2 separate regions of the Homo sapiens genome follow, and region 2 is linked to region 1. A link means that fine-mapping ties the variant in region 1 to the expression of a gene that starts in the linked region. Tissue or cell type: whole blood. Region 1 holds a variant in brackets; the other region holds the start of a gene. All regions are shown on one strand. Distances are from middle to middle.

Region 1 (10,312 bases):
ACCACGCCCGGCTAATTTTTGTATTTTTAGTAGAGACAGGGTTTCATCATGTTGGCCAGGCTGGTCTTGAACTCCTGACCTCGTGATCCACCTGCCTCAGCCTCCCAAAGTGCTGGGATTACAGGCGTGAGCCACCACACCTGGCCCACTTAGCACACTTTTGAGATTGCTGCAGTGCACTGCTATCAGTTCATACAGAGCTTCCTCATTCGACTTCACAGGTGCACAGCATTGCTTTCAACAGGTTTATCATGGTTGAACTATGTCCCTGTTCGCTGACAGTTGTGTTCACTCTTTGGCTATTATAAACAATGCCAAAATAAAGAATCTTGTAGATGCATCATTTGCATGTGTTTTAGTCTATTCATCTGTGTGAATAATTCCTGGAGGTGGAACTACTCAGTGTGCGTAGTTGTAATTTTGACAGACACTTCCATATTGACCCCTCCATGAGTTAGTGACTCTGTTAGTCTTTCAACTGCAATGCCTGTCTCTTCAGGTTCTTAAAAGTACAACATGTTTTCAAACTTTTGGATTTTTAGTCTAATAAGTATACAGTATAGTTTTTCTTCCTTTTTTTTTTTTAAACAACATAGCTTTAATTTGCATTTCCCTGCTAAGTTCCATAAGAACAGAGATTTTTGTCCCTGTTGGTCAGTTCTATATTCTATAGTTCCAAGAGCATATACAGGGAGTTAAATATTTATTAAATGAATAAGCAGTGAGTAGAATATTTTACATATGTTTACAAGCCATTCCTACATGCTTTACATGAGCTATACATTCAAATTCTGTATCTTTCTGTTGTTGGTCTTTTTCTTATCAATTCATGGATGCTCTTTACATATTAGGGGGGATTAGTCTTTGCTTTTTGGTGTTTTTTTTTTTTTTTTTTGAGACAGGGTCTTGCTCCATCACCAAGATTGGAGTGCAGTGGTGTATCTTGGCTCACTGTACCCTCCAGCTCCCAGGCTCAAGCAATCAATCCTCCCACCTCAGCCTCCTGAATAGCAGAGACTATAGGCATACACCCCCACACTCAGCTAATTTTTTAGTTTTTTTGTAGGTACAAGGTCTCATTATATTGCCCAGGCTGATCTTGAACTCCTGGGCTCAAGTGATCCTTCTACTTCAGCCTCCCAAAGTGCTGGGATTACAGGCGTGAGCCACCATGCCTGACCCAGATTAGTCCTTTATCTGTAACATGAGTTGCAAATACTTCTCAACTGGTTATATGTCTTTAGACTCTCCATAGTGTTTTTGTTACGAATAATTTTTTATGTGTTTGAATATATCAGAAGTTTATCTACTTTTAATGAATATATCAGAAGTTTGTCTACTTTTTTTTTTTTAATTAATTTATTTCTGAACAGAGTCTCACTCTGTCACCCAGGCTGGAGTGAAGCGGTGCGACCTTGGCTCACTGCAACCTCCGCCTCGTGGGTTCAAACGATTCTCCTGCCTCAGCCTCCAGAGTAGCTGGGATTATAGGCATGCGCCACCACACCCAGCTAATTTTTGTATTTTTTGAGTAGAGACGAGGTTTCACCATGTTGGCCAAACTGGTCTCAAACTCCCGACCTCGGCTGATCCGCCTGCCTTGGCCTCCCAAAGTGCTGGGGTTATAGGCGTGAGCCACCACACCCGGCCAGAAGTTTGTCTACTTTTAATACAAGCCTTGCCCTATCCAGACACAGTTCTACATAGTTTTAAATGGCCACAGTATTATTTAATACATAAAAAGCAATACACATGTGCACACAGAGAGAGAGAGAGAGCACCAGAGCTAGAAAACAATACCTACCTCATAACCATACTGAAGAACAGAAGAAGCTAGGCACGCTCCCAAAATGTTGCCCACCGAAGCACAGGCACTCCAGAGACCAAAAACAACTCCTCGTCTAAGATGGAAAACAGTGGGAGACAAAGGGCCATGGTCAGAAGAGATACTCTGGGCAGTTCAAAATACAAAACAGCCAAAACAACCAAGGTGCATACTACCAAGACTAAACATGCTATTTAAAAAGTTTTTAAAAATACACTAAAATGGGCTGGGCGCAGTGGCTCACACCTGTAATCCCAGTACTTTGGGAGGCCAAGGCGGACAGATCACCTGAGGTCAGGAGTTCGAGACCAGCCTGACCAACATGGAGAAACCCCATCTCTACTAAAAATACAAAATCAGTTGGGCGTGGTGGCAGGCGCCTGTAATCCCAGCTACTCGGAAGACTGAGGCAAGAGAATAGCTTGAACCCATGAGGCAGAGGTTGCAGTAAGCCGAGATCACGCCACTGCACTCCAGCCTTGACAACAAAGCGAGACTCCACCTCCCAAAAAAAAAAAACAAAACAAAAAAATCCAGAATATAAGGCCCTCAAAACTCAGTAAAATATGACAACAGACAATGCAATAGTATGTTAAAAAGCATGAATCTACAATCATCTCAAAATACAAAGTCTTTGAAAAGTGGGCAAAAGATTTTAATAGATACTTCACACAAAAAAATATACAAAGAAGCACACGAAAAAACACTCAAGTGGCCAGGCGAGGGCTCACGCCTGTAATCTCAGCCTTTGGGAGGCCTGAGGTGGGCAGGTCACTTGAGGTCAGGAGTTTGAGACTAGCCTGACCAACACGGCGAAACCCCGTCTCTACTAAAAATACAAAAATTAGCTGCACATGGTGGCTGCACACCTATAATCCCAGCTACTTGGGAGGCTGAGGCAAGAGAATCACTTGAAACCAGGAGGCGGAGGTTGCAGTGAGCCGAGATCGCACCACTATACTCCAGCCTGGGTGACAGGGCGAGACCCTGTTTCAAAAGCAAAACAAAGCAAAAATGTTTTTAAAAAGATGCTCAACGTCATTAGATATTAGAAAAATGGAAATTAAAGTCACAATGCGATATCATTACACACCTATTAGAATGGCTAAAATCAAAAAACACCAAGCACGCCAAGTGTTGGGAAGGGCACAGAGCAATAAGAACCCTTATGCTCTGCTGATGGGAATGTAAAATGGTACGACCACCTTGGAAGAGACTGCCAGTGTCTTAAAATGGTAAACGCAGCCAGGCGCAGTAGCTACGCCTATAGTCCCAGCACTTTGGGAGGCCAAGGTGGGTGGATCACCTGAGGTCAGGAGTTCAAGACCAGCCTGGCCAACATGGAGAAACCCCATCTCCACTAAAAATACAAAAAATTAGCTGGGCATGGTGGCGGGCCCCTGTAATCCCAGCTACTCGGGAGGCTGAGGAAGGAGAATTGCTTGAACCCAGGAGGTGGAGGCTGAGGTGAGCCGAGATCACGCCATTGCACTCCAGCCTGGGCAGTAAGAGCGAAACTCTGTCCTGGGGAAAAACAAAAAAAAGGGAAATACAAACCTAGCATATGATCCAGCCATTCTACCCCTAGATATTTACCCAAGAGAAATGAAAGCATATGTCCACACAAGGATTTGTACACAAATGTTCCCAGGAGCTTTATTTGTAACCGCCCAAAACTGAAAACAACCCAAATGTTCATCCACAGGTGAATGAATAAACATGAATAAATTTATAATTATGCTGAATGAAAGAAGACACAAAGGCTGGGTGTGGTGGCTCATGCCTATATTCCCAGCACTTCGGGAGGCCGAGGCAGAATAGCTTGAGGCCATGAAATTGAGACCAGCCTGGGCAACACAGACCCTTTCTCTACAGGAAAAAAAAAAAAAAAAGATGACTCAAAAAAAGAGTACATACTGTATGATTCCATTTATATATAAAATTATGGCTGGGTGCGGTGGCTCATGCCTGTAATCCCAGCACTTTGGAAGGCTGAGGCGGGCGAAATCACCTGAGGTCAGGAGATCGAGACCAGCCTGACCAACATGGAGAAACCCCATCTGTACTAAAAATGCAAAACTAGCCAGGTGTGGGGGCACATGCCTGTAATCCCAGCTACTCAGGAGGCTACAGCAGGAGAATCGCTTGAACCTGGGAGGCGGAGGTTGCAGTGAGCCGAGATCGCGCCATTGCAATGGGCAACAAGAGCAAAACTCCATCTCAAAAAAAAAAAAAAAATTAGCTGGACATGGTGGTACACACCTGTAATCCCAGCTACTTGGGAGGCTGAGGCAGGAGAATCACTTGAACCCCGGAGGCGAAGGTTGCAGTGAGCCGAGATCACCCCACTGCACTCCAGCCTGGTGACAGAGCAAGACTCTGTCTCAAAAACAAAAAAGAAAAAAAAGCTCCTTGAAGGTTTAGAGGGAAAAAATACCCCATTTGATCAAGCCCCAAAGTCTGGCGTTCTTCATCTGAGTCTAATTAGAGCCCTTGTTACATGACCTTGGGCAGGTCAACATGAATAACCTTTGACCTTAATTTCCTTATCTTTAATGTAAAAAGGTTAAATAAGATCACTCTCAAAAAAGGGCAGGGAAGGCAAAACCCAAAGGAAGATACATGATGGATAGTAAATGAGATTTTTATGTTCTATAAAGAAACGATGAGTAAAATAAAAAATTGAGACCTCCTGCCTTGGCCCACACTCAGAATCTGCCCACAGCCCAAAGAGTGGTAGGAGTGTGTCTCCTAGGCTGGATGACTTCTAAGGTCCACACCATTTCCAACGCACACTGACGTGAAACCCTCTCTCCCTGAACAACTCTGACTTGCTAACGAAAGATGTGGGTGGTATCTAAGGCAGCAAAGTAACTGACTTTGACAAGTCTGAAAAATCCACCATGGAAACCACTTAAACAGAGAAATTAGAGAGGAAGGAAGTGGCATACCCGGCTTTCCCAAACCAGTTGCCCATAACAGCAACCACACAGGGCCAACCAGTGGACTGCAGCAGGCCGTTCACAATCCACAGGCAGCAGTACAGCCATTTGTTGTAGAAACGCAGCCATTCTGTGAGCGCACCAAAGACAAACACCTTGAAGAGGAGGAAACAAAAGGAATATGTAACAGCCACACTGACACTTTCAGTGGACGCCACTCTACCCACTTGCTTCAGAGTAGAGACCACGTGAAGGATACACTCACACAGCCAGTGCCTGTAAGTCACGTGGCCAGCATCACAAAGGTCCTGCTCAGAGCCACAGTGAGGAGGCAGCCACCCAATCACTGCCCACCAGAGAGGAGGAGATGCCAAAGACATAAAGTCATTAAGCTATCAGCCCTCCAACTGACATCTTCAAGGCTAAAAAGTGAATTCCAGGCCGGGCTCACGCCTGTAATCTCAGCACTTTGGGAGGCCGAGGAGGGCAGATCACAAGGTCAGGAAATCGAGACCATCCTGGCTAACACGGTGAAACCCCGTCTCTAATGAAATTATAAAAAATTAGCTAGGCGTGGTGGCAGGTGCCTGTAGTCCCAGCTACTCAGGAGGCTGAGGCAGGAGAATGGCATGAACCTGGGAGG[T/C]GGAGCTTGCAGTGAGCCAAGATCGTGCCACTGCACTCCAGCCTGCGCGGGAGTGCGAGACTCTGTCTCAAAAAAAAAAAAAAAAAGTAATTCCTCATTTTACATGTATTTCCATCTCCTCACCCTCAGACTGTGCATGTGGAGGGAACAGCAACCTCCAGAGGGCTGCTGTGAGGACAGAACGAGCCCAGGGAGGCCACCTTTCCCGGAGCAGTGCCAGGTGCTGCTATGGGCAGAGGCACGGGGCGCATGCCAGCCACTGTTATGGCTACAGCTCCTGAGTTAATCAACGAAAGCGAAACCTATCAAACTTGTGATCTGCTGAATCATTTAGCAGCTTTCATCAAGGGGCTGCTTTTTTCCAGGCATTTTGCTCAAGTGGACATTTTATCTACAGTCAAACTCTATTCTGAGAATACTCTGCATGATTAAAAAATAGTATGTATAATACTGTCTAGTTCCAGTTACAAGACATTCTGGAATAAGTAAAACTGTACACAGAAAAATGATCAGGGGTTGCCAGGGGCTGGAGAAAGAAGGGGCGGTCACAAAACTACTCATTTGTTGAAAAGTCTGAACAATATGCTTAAAAAGGGCAAGTTTATGTACAAACTGCAGTTTTTAAAAAATACATAAAACACAAAAAAGTCTGTACACAGGTTTTAAAATAATATGTTTATTATGTGTGGGTGAGCAACTCATAAATAAATAAAGTGCTTCCATCTCTAAAATGTCAAGGGGAAAAAAGGTTTTACTTACACTCAAATGACAAACACTGAAAAACAATAGTAGGCCAAACGCAGGGACTTGTGCCGGTAATTCCAGTGTTTGCGGAGGCAAAGGAGGGAGGATCACTTAAGGCCAGGAGTTCAAGGAACAACCTGGGCAATATAGTGAGACCCCATGACTAAAAAATTTAAAAATTAGCTAAGCATGATGGTACACACCTACAGTCCCAGCTACACGGGAGGCTAAAATGGGAGGATTGCTCGAGCTTGGGAGTTCAAGGCTGCAGGATCACACCGCTGCACTCCAGCCTGGGCAGCAAATCGAGACCTTATCTCTAAAAAAATAATAATCATAATAAATTAGGGTCTAACTAAACTCCATGGTTTCATTTAATCAACAAAAATTCCTGACTAGAAGCTAGTAAGCAATGACGATTAGTCAGATATGGAGGCTGGGCACGGTGGCTCACCCCTGTAATCCCAGCACTTTGGGAGGCTGGGGTGGGCAGATCACCTGAGGTCAGGAGTTCAAGACTAGCCTGGCCAACATGGTGAAACCCTGACTCTACTAAAAATACAAAAATTAGCCGGGAATGGTGGTGCACACCTGTAGTCCCAGCTACTCAGGAGGCTAAAACAGGAGAATGGCTTGAATCTGGGAAGTGGAGGTTGCAGTGAGCCAAGATCATGCCACTGCACTCCAGCTTGGGTGACAGAGCAAGACTCCGTTTAAAAAAAAAAAAAAAAAGATTAATCAGATATGGATCCTCCCCTACACAGCACTTGTTTCAAATGCCTCACATACAGAAACTCACAGTCCTCACTGCCACCCGGGGAGAGCTAATATGCCCATCTCCCTCTGAAGCTCACAGAAATCATAAGCTAGAAAACCACAGAAGACAGACAGAAACCCAGGCTGTCCTTGTCTAGGGAATCTGTGATTTTAACCACTGCATACCCACCCTAAGGGAAAGCAAGACTGAACCAGAAATAACCAAGCTAAGCGGCAGACTGTTTCAAGTGCCTGCAAAGAAACAGGCACTGCAGCTCAGAAGCGGGACTGACATTCTCAAAGAGGTGTCATTTGGCCAATGCTTGAAGGAGACTGTGAGTTAGACTATGGAGAGCTGAAAAGGGGACCATCCAAGGCAGGCAGAACAGGAGAAACAAAAGCACCGAGATAGAAAGGAGCAGGATAGGGCCAGGTGCGGTGGCTCACACCTGTAATCCCAGCACTTTGGGAGGCCGAGGTGGGCGGATCACCTGAGGTCGGGAGTTCGAGACCAGCCTGACCAACATGGAGAAACCCGTCTTTACTAAAAATAAAAAAGTTAGTCAGGTGTGGTGGTGCATGCTTGTAATCCCAGCTACTCAGGAGGCTGAGGCATGAGAATCGCTTGAACCTGGGAGGTGGAGGTTGTGGTGAGCCAAGATTGTGCCATTCCACTCCAGCCTGGGCAACAAGAGCAAAACTCCGGACACACAGCCTCTCCCTCCCCCTCCCCCTCCCCCTCCCCCTCCCCCTCCCCCTCCCTCTCTCCCTCTCCGTCTCCCTCTCTCTCCACGGTCTCCTTCCACGGTCTCCCTCTGATGCCGAGCCAAAGCTGGACGGTACTGCTGCCATCTCGGCTCACTGCAACCTCCCTGCCTGATTCTCCTGCCTCAGCCTGCCGAGTGCCTGCGATTGCAGGCGCGCGCCGCCACGCCTGACTGGTTTTCGTTTTTTTTTTGGTGGAGACGGGGTTTTGCTGTGTCGGCCGGGCTGGTCTCCAGCTCCTAACCGCGAGTGATCCGCCAGCCTCGGCCTCCCGAGGTGCCGGGATTGCAGACGGAGTCTCGTTCACTCAGTGCTCAATGGTGCCCAGGCTGGAGTGCAGTGGCGTGATCTCGGCTCGCTACAACCTCCACCTCCCAGCTGCCTGCCTTGGCCCCCCAAAGTGCCGAGATTGCAGCCTCTGCCCAGCCGCCACCCTGTCTGGGAAGTGAGGAGCGTCTCTGCCTGGCCCCCCATCGTCTGGGATATGAGGAGCCTCTCTGCCTGGCTGCCCAGTCTGGAAAGTGAGGAGCGTCTCTGCCCGGCCACCATCCCATCTAGGAAGTGAGGAGCGCCTCTTCCCGGCCGCCATCCCATCTAGGAAGCGAGGAGCGCCTCTTCCCCGCCGCCCATTGTCTGAGATGTGGGGAGCGCCTCTGCCCCGCCGCCCTGTCTGGGATGTGAGGAGCGCCTCTGCTGGGCCGCAACCCTGTCTGGGAGGTGAGGAGCGTCTCTGCCCGGCCGCCCCGTCTGAGAAGTGAGGAAACCCTCTGCCTGGCAACCGCCCCGTCTGAGAAGTGAGGAGCCCCTCCGTCCGGCAGCCACCCCGTCTGGGAAGTGAGGAGCGTCTCCGCCCGGCAGCCGCCCCGTCCGGGAGGGAGGTGGGGGGGGGGGTCAGCCCCCCGCCCGGCCAGCCGCCCCGTCTGGGAGGTGAGGGGCGCCTCTGCCCGGCCGCCCCTACCGGGAAGTGAGGACCCCTCTGCCCGGCCAGCCGCCCCGTCCGGGAGGGAGGTGGGGGGTCAGCCCCCCGCCCGGCCAGCCGCCCCGTCCGGGAGGTGAGGGGCGCCTCTGCCCGGCTGCCCCTACTGGGAAGTGAGGACCCCTCTGCCCGGCCAGCCGCCCCGTCCGGGAGGGAGGTGGGGGGGGGGGTCAGCCCCCTGCCCGGCCAGCCGCCCAGTCCGGGAGGGAGGTGGGGGGTCAGCCCCCCACCCGGCCAGCCGCCCCGTCCGGGAGGGAGGTGGGGGGATCAGCCCCCCGCCTGGCCAGCCGCCCCGTCCCGGAGGTGAGGGGCGCCTCTGCCCGGCCGCCCCTACTGGGAAGCGAGGAGCCCCTCTGCCCGGCCAGCCGCCCCGTCCGGGAGGGAGGCGGGGGGGGGGGTCGGCCAGCCGCCCTGTCCGGGAGGGAGGTGGCGGGGTCAGCCCCCCGCCCAGCCGGCCGCCCCGGCCGGGAGGTGAGGGGCGCCTCTGCCCGGCCGCCCCTAATGGGAAGTGAGGACCCCTCTGCCCGGCCAGCCGCCCCGTCAGGGAGGGTGGTGGGGGGGGTCAGCCCCCCGCCCGGCCAGCCGCCCCATCCGGGAGGTGAGGGGCGCTTCTGCCCGGCCGCCCCTACTGGGAAGTGAGGAGCCCCTCTGCCCGGCCACGACCCCGTCTGGGAGGTGTGCCCAGCGGCTCATTGGGGATGGGCCATGATGACAATGGCGGTTTTGTGGAATAGAAAGGCGGGAAGGGTGGGGAAAAAATTGAGAAATCGGATGGTTGCCGGGTTTGTGTGGATAGAAGTAGACATGGGAGACTTTTCATTTTGTTCTGTACTAAGAAAAATTCTTCTGCCTTGGGATCCTGTTGATCTGTGACCTTATCCCCAACCCTGTGCTCTCTGAAACATGTGCTGTGTCCACTCAGGGTTAAATGGATTAAGGGCGGTGCAAGATGTGCTTTGTTAAACAGATGCTTGAAGGCAGCAGGCTCGTTAAGAGTCATCACCACTCCCTAATCTTAAGTACCCAGGGACACAAACACTTCGGAAGGCCGCAGGGTCCTCTGCCTAGGAAAACCAGAGACCTTTGTTCACTTGTTTATCTGCTGACCTTCCCTCCACTATTGTCCTATGACCCTGCCAAATCCCCCTCTGCGAGAAACACCCAAGAATGATCAATAAAAAAAAAATAAATAAAAAAATAAAAAAAAAAGAGCAAAACTCCGCCTCAAAAAAAAAAAAAAAAAAAAAAAAAGAAAGGAGCGGGATGTTAGCGGCCTGGAAAGCAGTCCAGCTTGGCTGGAGCAAAGCGATGAAGCAGAGTGACAAATATGATGGGAAGGCAGGCTGGGGCCAGGGTGTAGTGAATGCCAGGCCATTTATTCAGACTATTAATTAACTCTGCTGGTGCCTGAGGGACAACAAAGGAACCTGATTAGAATCTTACTTTAAAAAGACTCATCTGGCCAGGCGCAGTGGCTCATGCCTGTAATCCCAGCACTTTGGGAGGCCAAGGCAGGAGGATCACCTGAGGCCAGGAGATAAGACTGGCCAACATGGTGAAACCCCGTCTCTACCAAAAATACAAAAATCACCCAGGCGTGGTGAGCTGTACCTATAGTCCCAGCTGCTCAGGAGGCTGAGGCAGCAGAATCGCTTGAACAT
Region 2 (10,312 bases), 39 kb after region 1:
TTCTTCACTTGCCAGAGGTTGGAGGTCCATCCATATCAGCACCTGCAGAGCTGAACACGTGCGCCGTCCTCACTGACATGAAGGAATCTTTAGATATTTAACCAGGCCCCCACTGGGCAGCTGGGTGGTTCCCAATCCTTTGCCAGGCCGCCTGGTGAGGATCTAGCTTGTCTCCTTTCTACTGTGCCCACCTACCTCCCACCCTCACCAACACCAACTCCCCACACCAAATCCCTCTCCTGTCCCTGAACCCATCAAGCCTCCTCTTGCTTCGGGCTTTGTGTTTGTTCTTCCACGAGAGGAGTGTTTTTGTCCTGCTTCTTGGCAAATGGCTTGCTCCTTCCTTTTCTTGGCTAGTCAATGAAATGTCACCCCCTAGAGTGAGCTCCCTGATAACCCTATCTAAAATGGTCTCCCCTGGTTACTACCTCTCTCATCTCTTTCGCCATTTCTTTCCTTCAGAGCATCTCTCCCAGTTATCTGGTTTAATTGTTTCCATGTCTACTGTTCATCTGTAAGCTCCATAAAAGCAGTGGCTCTCTGTGTCCTGAGTCTCACAGCCACATCCACAGGACCCAGCAGAGCACTGAGAACGATCAATAAAGATTTTTTGGGCCGGGCGCGATGGCTCACACTTGTAATCTCAACAGTTTGGGAGGCCAAGGCAGACAGACGGCTTGAGCCCACGAGTTCGGGACCAGCCTGAGCAATATGGTGAAACCCTGTCTCTACAAAAAATACAAAAATCAGCGGGGCATGCTGGTGCACACCTGTAGTCCCAGCTACTCGAGAGGTGGAGGCGGGAGGATCGCTTGAACCCGGTAGGTGGAGACTGAAGTGAGCCAAGGTTGCACCATTGCACTCCAGCCTGGGCAACAGAGTGAGACCCCATATCAAAAAAAAAAGTTTTTTTTTGAATCAATGAATTGGTTGACTGACAGCAGAACACTGAATGCTTACAAAGTACTAGGCACCATGCTAGGTACCTACCATGCATTACTGCATTTAGTTCTCTCAATGTTTTACAGATGAGAAAACAGATATTAGAAAGTAATCTCTAGGTCTGGTCCAGTGGCTCACGCCTATAATCCCAGCACTTTGGGAGGCCAAGGTGGGAGGATCACTTAAGCTCAAGAGTTTAAGACCAACCTTGGCAACATAGGGAGACCTCATTCATCTCTACAAAAAATACAAAAATCAGCCAGTTGTGGTGGCGGACACCTGTGGCCCTATCTACTTGGGAGGCTGAGGTGGGAGGATCACTTGAGCCTGGGAGGCTGAGGCAGCAGTGAGCCATGACTGCACCACTGCACTCCAGCCTGGGCGACAGAGCGAGACTCCATCTGAAAAAAAAACAGGGTCTCGCTCTGTCGCCCAGGCTGGAGGGCAGTGGCGTGATCTTGGCTTACTGCAACCTCCGCCTCCCAGGTTCATGCGATTCTTCTGCCTCAGCCTCTTGAGTAGCTGGGACTACAGGCATGCACCACCACGTCCAGCTAATTTTTGTATTTTTAGTAGAGACAGGGTTTCACCATATTGGCAAGGCTGGTCTCGAACCCCTGACCTCGTGATCCGCCTGCCTCAGCCTCCCAAAGTGCTGGGATTACAGGTGTGAGCTACTGTGCCCAGCCCTCATAAAATTTTTTAAAAAAGAAAGCAATCTCTCTCAAACGATGGAGTGCACATTCCAACTCAGATCTAATTCTAGATCCTATGTTATATCATTTAAGGGTAAAGGTTAAAATAGAAAATACTCCAAGCTGGATAAAATACAATAGTTAGAACTATCACACCCTTCATGCATTAAAAAAGAGCTATAAAGCCGGGCACAGTGGCTCATGCCTGTAACCTGAACACTTTGGGAGGCCAAGGCAGGTGGATCACGAGGTTAGGAGTTCAAGACCAGCCTGGCCAAAATGGTGAAACCCCGTCTCTACTAAAAATATAAAAATTAGCCAGGTGTGGTGGTGGGCACCTATAATCCCAGCTGCTTGGGAGGCTGAGGCAGAGAACTGCTTGAACCCGGGAGGCGGAGGCTGCAGTGAGCTGAGATGGTGCCACTGCACTCCAGCCTTGGTGACAAAGCGAGACTCCATCTCAAATTAAAAAAAAAAAAAAAAAAAAAAAAGAGCTATAAAAAAATAAAAATAGGCTGGGTGCGGTGGCTCACACCTGTAATCCCAGCACTTTGGGAGGCCAAGGCAGGTGGATCATTTGAGGTCAGGAGTTCTAGACCACCCTGGCGAATATGGCGAAACCCTGTCTCTACTAAAAACACAAAAATTGGCCAGGTGTGGTGGTGGGTGCCTGTAATCCCAGCTACTTGGGAGGCTGAAACAGGAGAATTGCTTGAACCCAGGAGGCGGAGGTTGCAGTGAACCGAGATCCCCCTACTGCTCTCCAACCTGGGCAACAGAGCAAGACTCTGTCTCAAAAAATAAATAAATAAATAAATAAAAGAACTAGCACACCTAAACTCAGAGGTATATACCAAGGATGGGGAAAAAAAACATCTTACTGGTAAGAGTGGTTCTCTTACACACTCAAAGGAGAGGGGCATTAGATGGGCAATTACTCACCTCCCAGACTTCAGTTTTTATGTCTGCACAGTAAAAAGATTATGTGTTTTCAAAGTGTAAAGAAGAATGTGGGAAATTATTAAATGTATAGTTGAGTTCACCATTTTTACAGTATTGTATATGTTGCAGTTTAGCGTCTCAATGCTCACACTCATACAACTATCTTTTTTTTTTTTTCAGAGACAGGGTCTCACTCTGTTACCCAGGCTGGAGTGCAGTGGCGTGATCATAGTTCACTGCAGCCTCAATCTCCTTCCTAGGTTTAAGCGATCCTCCTGCCTCAGCCTCCAAAGTTGCTGGGACTACAGGTGGGCACCATCACACCTGGCTAATTTTCTTAGTTTTTGTAGAAACAGGGTCTTGCTATGTTAACCAGTCTGGTCTTAAATTCCTGGCCTTAAGAGATAGATCCTCCTGCCTCAGCCTCCCAAAGCCCTAGGATTATGGGCATGAGCCACTGCACCCAGCCACAAGTATCTTTTTTATCCCACATTATCTCATACGAAGCCATTTACTTGAACCTCATAAATCCTTTTTATTCATTAATTCATCCGTCTTCCTGTAATTTTTATCTCTTCTTAAATTATCTCATTACCACAGGCATAAAATACTTGGCATTTATCTGTAAATATCTCTCATTTTATTCCAGGGTTTCCAAAACCACATTCTTCCTCCCTGTTTTTGGACATGTTCCAAAGACAACTAGTTTTCAAGATAAAAATCTTTCCCTCTTCTACCAAAGGATTTATAATCAAGTTAATGGTCACTGCAGTGACATGACATTAACACTGATGAACAGAGCACAAATCAGAACCTTAAACAATGAACAAGGCAGTTGATCCTGACAGCTAGAAAGCAGCAAGATACTGTTGACTTAACTTTTATAAAAGTATTGTTTCCGGGTCACCTTCTTAGGCAGAGACTCGAAATCAAACACTAATAGAAGAATGGTGTCATTCAAGAGACAAGCCAGGTATGGAATCTAAGACCCTCCACTTAAAAGTAGCTTCTCTGAATCTCAATTTCTGTTTTTTTTTTTGTTTTTTTTTTTTTGACAGAGTCTGAGGCCGGGCGCAGTGGCTCACGCCTGTAATTACAGCGCTTTGGGAGGCCAAGGCAGGCGGACCACGAGGTCAGGAGATCCAGATCATCATGGCCAATATGGTGAAACCCCGTCCCTACTAAAAATCCAAAAATTAGCCTGGCGTGGTGGCGGGCGCCTGTAGTCCCAGCTACTCGGGAGGCTGAGGCAGGAGAATCACTTGAACCCGGGAGGCGGAGGTTGCAGTGAGCCGAGATGGTGCCACGGCACTCCAGCCTGGGCGACAAGAACAAAAACTCAGTCTCAAAAAAAAAAAAGACAGAGTCTGGCTCTGTCACCCAGGCTGGAGTGCAGTGGTGTGATCTCGGCTCACTGCAACCTCCGCCTCCCAGGTTCAAGCGATTCTCCTGCCTCAGCCTCCCGAGTAGCTGGGATTACAGGCATGCGCCACGACGCCCAGCTAATCTTTGTATTTTTAGTAGAGACGGGGTTTCACCATGTTGGCCAGGCTGGTCTTGAACTCCTGACCTCAAGGAATCCACAGGCCTCGGCCTCCCAAAGTGCTGGGATTACAGGCATGAGACACCGCGCCCAACCCGAAGCTCAATTTCCTCATGTATTAATTAAATGAGATAATTTATATGGAGTTCTTAGTATAGAGCCTAGTATCCAAGAAACATCAAACAAACTGAAAAGAAATCATTTAAGCACCAAAGCACTGAAGACATTCCCTTCAACAACTGTTATATATATTTATGTATGTATAAATTTGTGTAAAGGTAGAAATAAACCGGTGGACAAAAAGATAACAACTGAATGATTTTGCTCACCCCAGGAACCACTCCTCCCTATAAACTATAAACTTTTCAGTAAGAGTTACCACGAGATAGCCTACCATCTTACATTTCAAAAAAACACTAAAAACTCCGGGGACACATTCCCATTATCTCCTGTCAAAACTGAGAATAAACAGAACACACCCTGCGAAGAATAAGGAGGGAATGACGAATAATTTGACCAAATTCCTTGACTGAGTTCATGCTAGTTACCAGAAAACAAAACCAGTCACTCACTGAGACCACGCTTCTTCTCTGACCTCTATACATCCTTTCCAAAGAGCTTCCTTCCCCACCTACCTGAAAAGCATCCCCTCTCCCCTGGTCCGAACGACAAGCCCTTTTCTGATCAAGTCAGAATCTCCCAGACCCACGGCCGGAGGACAGGCGGGCGAGGAGCACAAAAGCCTCTGCCGCATGGATCGGGGCCGGGCCGCAGGGTCCCCCGGGGGTCCTTCTCCTCCCCATCCACCCCATCGCAGCCTCCCCGTGACGGCCGGGACCCCAGGCCCGGGCCCAGGGAGGAGAAGGAGGGGGCGAGCGGCCGACCCTGCCTGGGCGCCCCACCCAAGGGGGGCCGCCACCTACATCTCCCCACCGCCCTCCCGACCCGGGAAGCCCCTCGGATTGGACCCGCCCCCGCCCCAGCAGGTCTTCGGCCCCACGCATCACCGCTTGCGCACCCGAGATCCGCAGTGGTCGCCGCTCTCCAGCCCCGGCTCCGCTCGCCGGGTCAGCTTGGCTCCGCTGCCCGCCTCCCCCGCCGCCAGCTCACCCCTGGCGGTGCGACCAGGGTTTCCGGACGCCCACGTGACCCTCCCGTCGCGGGGCACGCTGGGAGTTGTAGTCCCGCCACGCGGCCTCACCTGCCGGCGCGGAGGAGGGCGAGGAGGGCGGAGGCTGGGAGCCCACAGAACTCTGCTGCTGCGGACCTGGCCAGTAATGTTAGCTGCAAAAGACGAGAGGTAGAGAGAAGAAATGATATGGGGAGAACTGGTGCATCCTTTTTTTTTTTTTTTTTTTTTTTTTTTCAAAAAAGCGGTATTCGGTCTTTGTTTTTATAAAAAGTAACGTGCTGCTAAGTGTGCTACTGACCGGCCTAAATTTTAGGTGTCTAATTAAATGCAGGCCGGGCACAGTGGGCTCACGCCTGTAATCCAACACTTTAGGAGGTCGAGAAGGGAGGATCACTTGAACCCAGTAGTTCAAGACCAGCCTTAGCAACATAGCCAGACCCCATCTCTACAAAAAATGTTAAAATTAGCCAGGAGTAGTGGCATGTGCCTGTGGTCCCTGCTACTGGGGCGACCGAGGTGCGAGGATCGCTTGAGCCCAAAAGTTTGAGGCTGGCAGCTGTGATTGCTCCACTGCACCAGCCTGGGCAACAGAACGAGACCCTGCCTCCAAAAAAAAAAAATCCAACACAAGTGTCTCACACCTGTAATCCTAACACTTTGGGAGGCCGAAGTAGGAGCATCATTTGAGAACAAGAGTTTGAGACCAGCCTGGGCAAGGTAGTGAGAGCCGCCCCCCATCCACCACCACCACCGCCGCCACCGTTTCTTAAATAAAGGGAAAAAATACAGACACTTGTTCGAATTTTAAAGAAAAAAAACTTCTCTTAATCCAGAAAATCTCCACAACAACCATTACATACCTGTTCTCAAGATAAACAATCACTAGTCTTCAAATAACAGAACTTGACAACACCTTTTGTCAAACATAGTTCCTCCTTACTTAATAGTAGTAATTGGGGAGACCACTCATGTTGGCTTTATCCAGAAGCAAAACAAACTTCGCATAACTTTTTGTTGTTGTTGTTCGTTTTTTAAACTTCGCATATCTTTTTGTTTGTTTGTTTTTTGTTTTTGAGACGGAGTCTTGCTCTGTTACCCAGGCTGGAGTGCAGTGGCGTGATCTCAGCTCACTGCAAGCTCCGCCTCCCGGGTTCAAGGGATTCTCCTGCCTCAGCCTCCCGAATAGCTGGGACTACAGGCGCCCGCCACCACGCCTGGCTAATTTTTTTGTATTTTTAGTAGAGACGGGGTTTCACCGTGTTAGCCAGGATGGTCTCGATCTCCTGACCTCGTGATCTGCCCTCCTTGGCCTCCCAAAGTTCTAGCATTACAGGTGTGAGCCACCGCAGCCGGCCAAAGTTCGCATATCTTTATAGCAGGAGGTAGTTTTACAAATTGGAGCAAGGCGCCCATACCCACTAATTTAGTCTCTTACCCTCATGTAGGAACTGGAAGATACAGGCACTAACTCACGTCTGAATTTCAAAAAGATGACCCCCAAGTCCTTGAGGATACATTTCTGAGTTGTGATACTGGCAAGAGGCTCATTTCGCCGTTATAAAGATTTGTGTACATTCGAAAAGGACAGAGAAAGAAATTTTGAAGGAACAGAGAGAAGGCTGAGAAGTCTCTTTATTTTCAGCAGAGGAATTAAGCCTGTTATTTTTCATTTTTATTTGCCCTTATACAGTGGTAGTTTTGTTTCTAGCCCTTATACAGTGGTAGTTTTGTCTCTAGGCATCCAAGGAGAAATATGATGTCAGGGTGAGCAAAAATAAATGAGCCAAATATGTTACTTTTATTTTTAAAAATATATTGTGAATCGTTTATTTTTCAGCCTAAAAAAGGTAGCAAATTCTGACACATACTACAACATAGACGAACCTTCAAAAACATTATGCTAAGTGAAATAAGTCAGACATAAAAGGACCAGTACAGTACAGTTCCACTTATATGAGGTAGCCAGAGTAGTGAAATTCATAGAGTCAGAAAGTAGCATGGTGGTTGCCCATGGCTGGAGGGAAGGGGAAATGAGAAATTGTTGTTTAATGGCTATGGAGTTTCCGTTTGGGATGCCAAAAAAGTCCTGGAGATGGATGGTGATGTTGGTTGCACAACAATGTATTTAATGCCATTGAATTGTACACTTAAAAACGGTTAAAATGGTAAATATATATACATAGAGTGAAATACATAGTTTTTTGTGTTATATTTACATATGGGTGTATACATATATATGTGTGTGTGTATACTTCAAGTATATAACCTGTGTCACCACCACTCAGGGCTAGAATGCCTTCTTAGCCATGTGGTGGTGTGTATCTTTAATCCCAGCTACTAGGGAGGTTGAGGTAGGAGGATCACTTCAGCCGCACCTTTGGAGGCTGCAGTGAGCTATGATCGTACCACTGTGCTCCAGCCTGGGTGACAGAGGGAGACCCAGTCTCTTAAAAAAGAAAAAACAGTGTATATATACACACACATTTATACATATGAATGCCTTCTTTCCTGTAGCCCAAGCTATGCTCTTTGTATTTATAGTGACCTTGGTGGAGAGGGTTGGGTGGTAGACAGAGGTAAGATCTCTCTCCCCTTGACTTCCAAAACCATCAGGATATTTAAATATTTGTAACATTTGTTTTCTACCTGTAGATGTTCTCCAAGTGCTCAGTGGGTCTGAGTCAGGTGACTTTTTTTTTAAACAGTAACCACCCCAGGTGCGGTGGCTCACCCCTATAATCCCAGCACTTTGGAAGGCCGAGGCAAGTGGATCACCTGAGGTCAGGAGTTCCAGACCAGCCTGGCCAACATAGTGAAACCCCATCTCTACTAAAAATACAAAAATTAGCTGGACGTGGTGGCGGGTGCCTGTAATCCCAACTACTCGGGAGGCTGAGGCAGGAGAATCGCTTGAACCCGGGAGGTGGAGGTTGCAGTGAGCCAAGATCGCACCATTGCACTCGAGCCTGAGTGACAAAAGCTAAACCTTATCTCAGGAAAAAAAAAAAAAAAGTAACCATTACCAGAAGAAAGACAACATTTGGACACTGAACTTCATGACACTGACACCTAACAGGTTTTATTTCCTGATCACACATTTGGGGCGAATCTTTACCTACACTGGATTTCCACATTGTGCTGGTGGTTCTCACCCTGCAGCAATATTTGGCAGAGTCTTTTGTTTTCTTGCTATACCTGCCAGTGTTGAGTTTATCTCACTCAGAAGAGAGTATCCTGAAAATGGATATGTAACTGGAATTTTGGGTAAGACAAATATTTTCAAATTTATCTGAAGACATCATAGAAGTAATGTTCTTGGACAGTGAATAAATTGCCCTGTATTTCAGTGCTTCTCAAACGTTGCGGACCCCAGCCTACAGTTAAAAAGACATTTCAGGCCAGGCACGGTGGCCCACGCCTGTTATCCCAGCACCTTGGGAGGCTGATGTGGGAGGATTGCTTGATCCCAGGAGTTCGAGACCAGTCTGGGTAACAAAGTGAGGCCCTGGCTCTACAAAAAAATGAAATAAATAGCTGGGCATGATGGTGCACACCTGTAGTCCCAGATATACAGGAGGCTAAGGCAGGAAGATTGCTTGAGCCCAGGAGGTTGAGGCCGCAGTGAGCCATGACGGTGCCACTGCACTTCAGCCTGGGAGACAAAGTGAGACCCTGTCTCAAAAAAAACATTTTTTTTTTACATCACCCTGTAAAATATGCATGTGTACAACTGACCCAAACATTTTGCAAAACAGTAGTCACTGTTACTACACAAGATACATTCTGAAGTTGTTTCTTAATCCCTTCTTGTGAAAATGCTGGTTGCAACCCACAAAGGTTGATTTCATGACTCATTTATAGGTCTCAGCCCACAGTTTGGAAACAGGACACCGATGTAAATATTTTATCCAACAGGGTGTCTCTGTTTCAATTTTGCTTATTGTGTCTATAATGCCATTTAACTGCCTACATATCACATCCTATGTAGTGGAGAAAATCTGGTCCCTGTGATAGACATTGGGAGGCAGTTACTGTTCTAGACTCTGGGGAAAAAATAGTAAGGAAAATTCACCTCAGCTTTATGCTTCTACTGCCAGCATCTGGGACTGATAAACTTGAGGTTTTCTGGACGTCAACCTTTGCTCTATGGTAGAATTTTTGAGGGAGTGAGGCAGACATTTTCTTTTCAGCTTTTTCTTCTCATATACCTTCAAAGTTCTTTTAGTTTTGTTTTTGCTTCCTTCTCTTTGCATCATCTCCTTTCTCTGACTCCTCACAAAGAGATATTCAGATCTACAAAACAAAGACTTAAATTACTTACAATCTGGCCAGGTACGGTGGTTTCATGCCTTGTAATCCCAGCACTTCGGGAAGCCAAGGCAGGAGGATCACTTGAGCCCAGGAGTTTCTTCTCTTTTTTTCTTTTTTTTTTTGAGACGGAGTCTCACTCTGTCACCCAGGCTGGAGTGCAGTGGCGCGACCTTGGCTCACTGCAACCTCCACCTCGCAGGCTCAAGCGATTCTCCTGCCAGAGTAGCTGGGATTATAGGCTCACCACCAGACCCGGGTAATTTTTGTATTTTTAGTAGAGATGGGGTTTTGCCATGTTGGCCAGGCTGGTCTCGAACTCCTGACCTCAGGTGATCTGCCCACCTCAGCCTCCCAAAGTGCTGGGATCACAGGCATGAGCCACCATGCCTGGCCAAACCCAGGAGTGTCAAACCACCATGGGCAACATAGGGAGATCCCAGCTCTAAAAACAATAAATAGTGGGGCATGGTGGTGTATGACTGTAGTCCCAGCTACTTGGGAGGCTGAAGTGGGAGGCTTCCTTGAGCCTGGGATGTTGTGGCTGCAGTGAGCCATAATTATGCCTCTGCACTCCAGCCTGAGCCATAGAGCAAGACCCTGTCTCTAAAAAATATGTATATATAATAAAATAAATTACTTAAGATCTATATCCTCCTTTAGTTGGTGTTATCTCAACTAACAACCCTCAGGCCAGCTGTAGTCCCAGATATTCAGGAGGCTGAGGCAGGTGGATTGCTTGAGCCCGGG

Evidence for each region. PIP is the estimated chance that this variant, and not a neighbour inherited with it, causes the effect.
Region 2: it holds the start of SLC37A3, and the variant in region 1 is fine-mapped to the expression of SLC37A3 in whole blood (TOPMed, PIP 0.95).

Annotation. Positions count from the first base shown.
Region 1 is chr7:140,353,864-140,364,175 of GRCh38, forward strand. It overlaps SLC37A3 (solute carrier family 37 member 3), which reads right to left. Exons shown (of 15, transcript NM_207113.3): 6 at 4,777-4,922; 7 at 1,805-1,901. Among named protein-coding and RNA genes, the nearest start is that of SLC37A3, 40 kb to the right of the region's middle. RefSeq lists enhancers at 5,739-5,788, 9,350-10,213. The variant T/C (reference allele first, on the strand shown) is at 5,411.
Region 2 is chr7:140,393,276-140,403,587 of GRCh38, forward strand. SLC37A3 (solute carrier family 37 member 3) reads right to left here and starts at 5,255. Exons shown (of 15, transcript NM_207113.3): 1 at 5,141-5,255. It overlaps LOC124901759 (a long non-coding RNA gene), which reads right to left. Exons shown (of 2, transcript XR_007060561.1): 2 at 8,308-9,547. RefSeq lists silencers at 4,793-5,062, 5,173-5,402.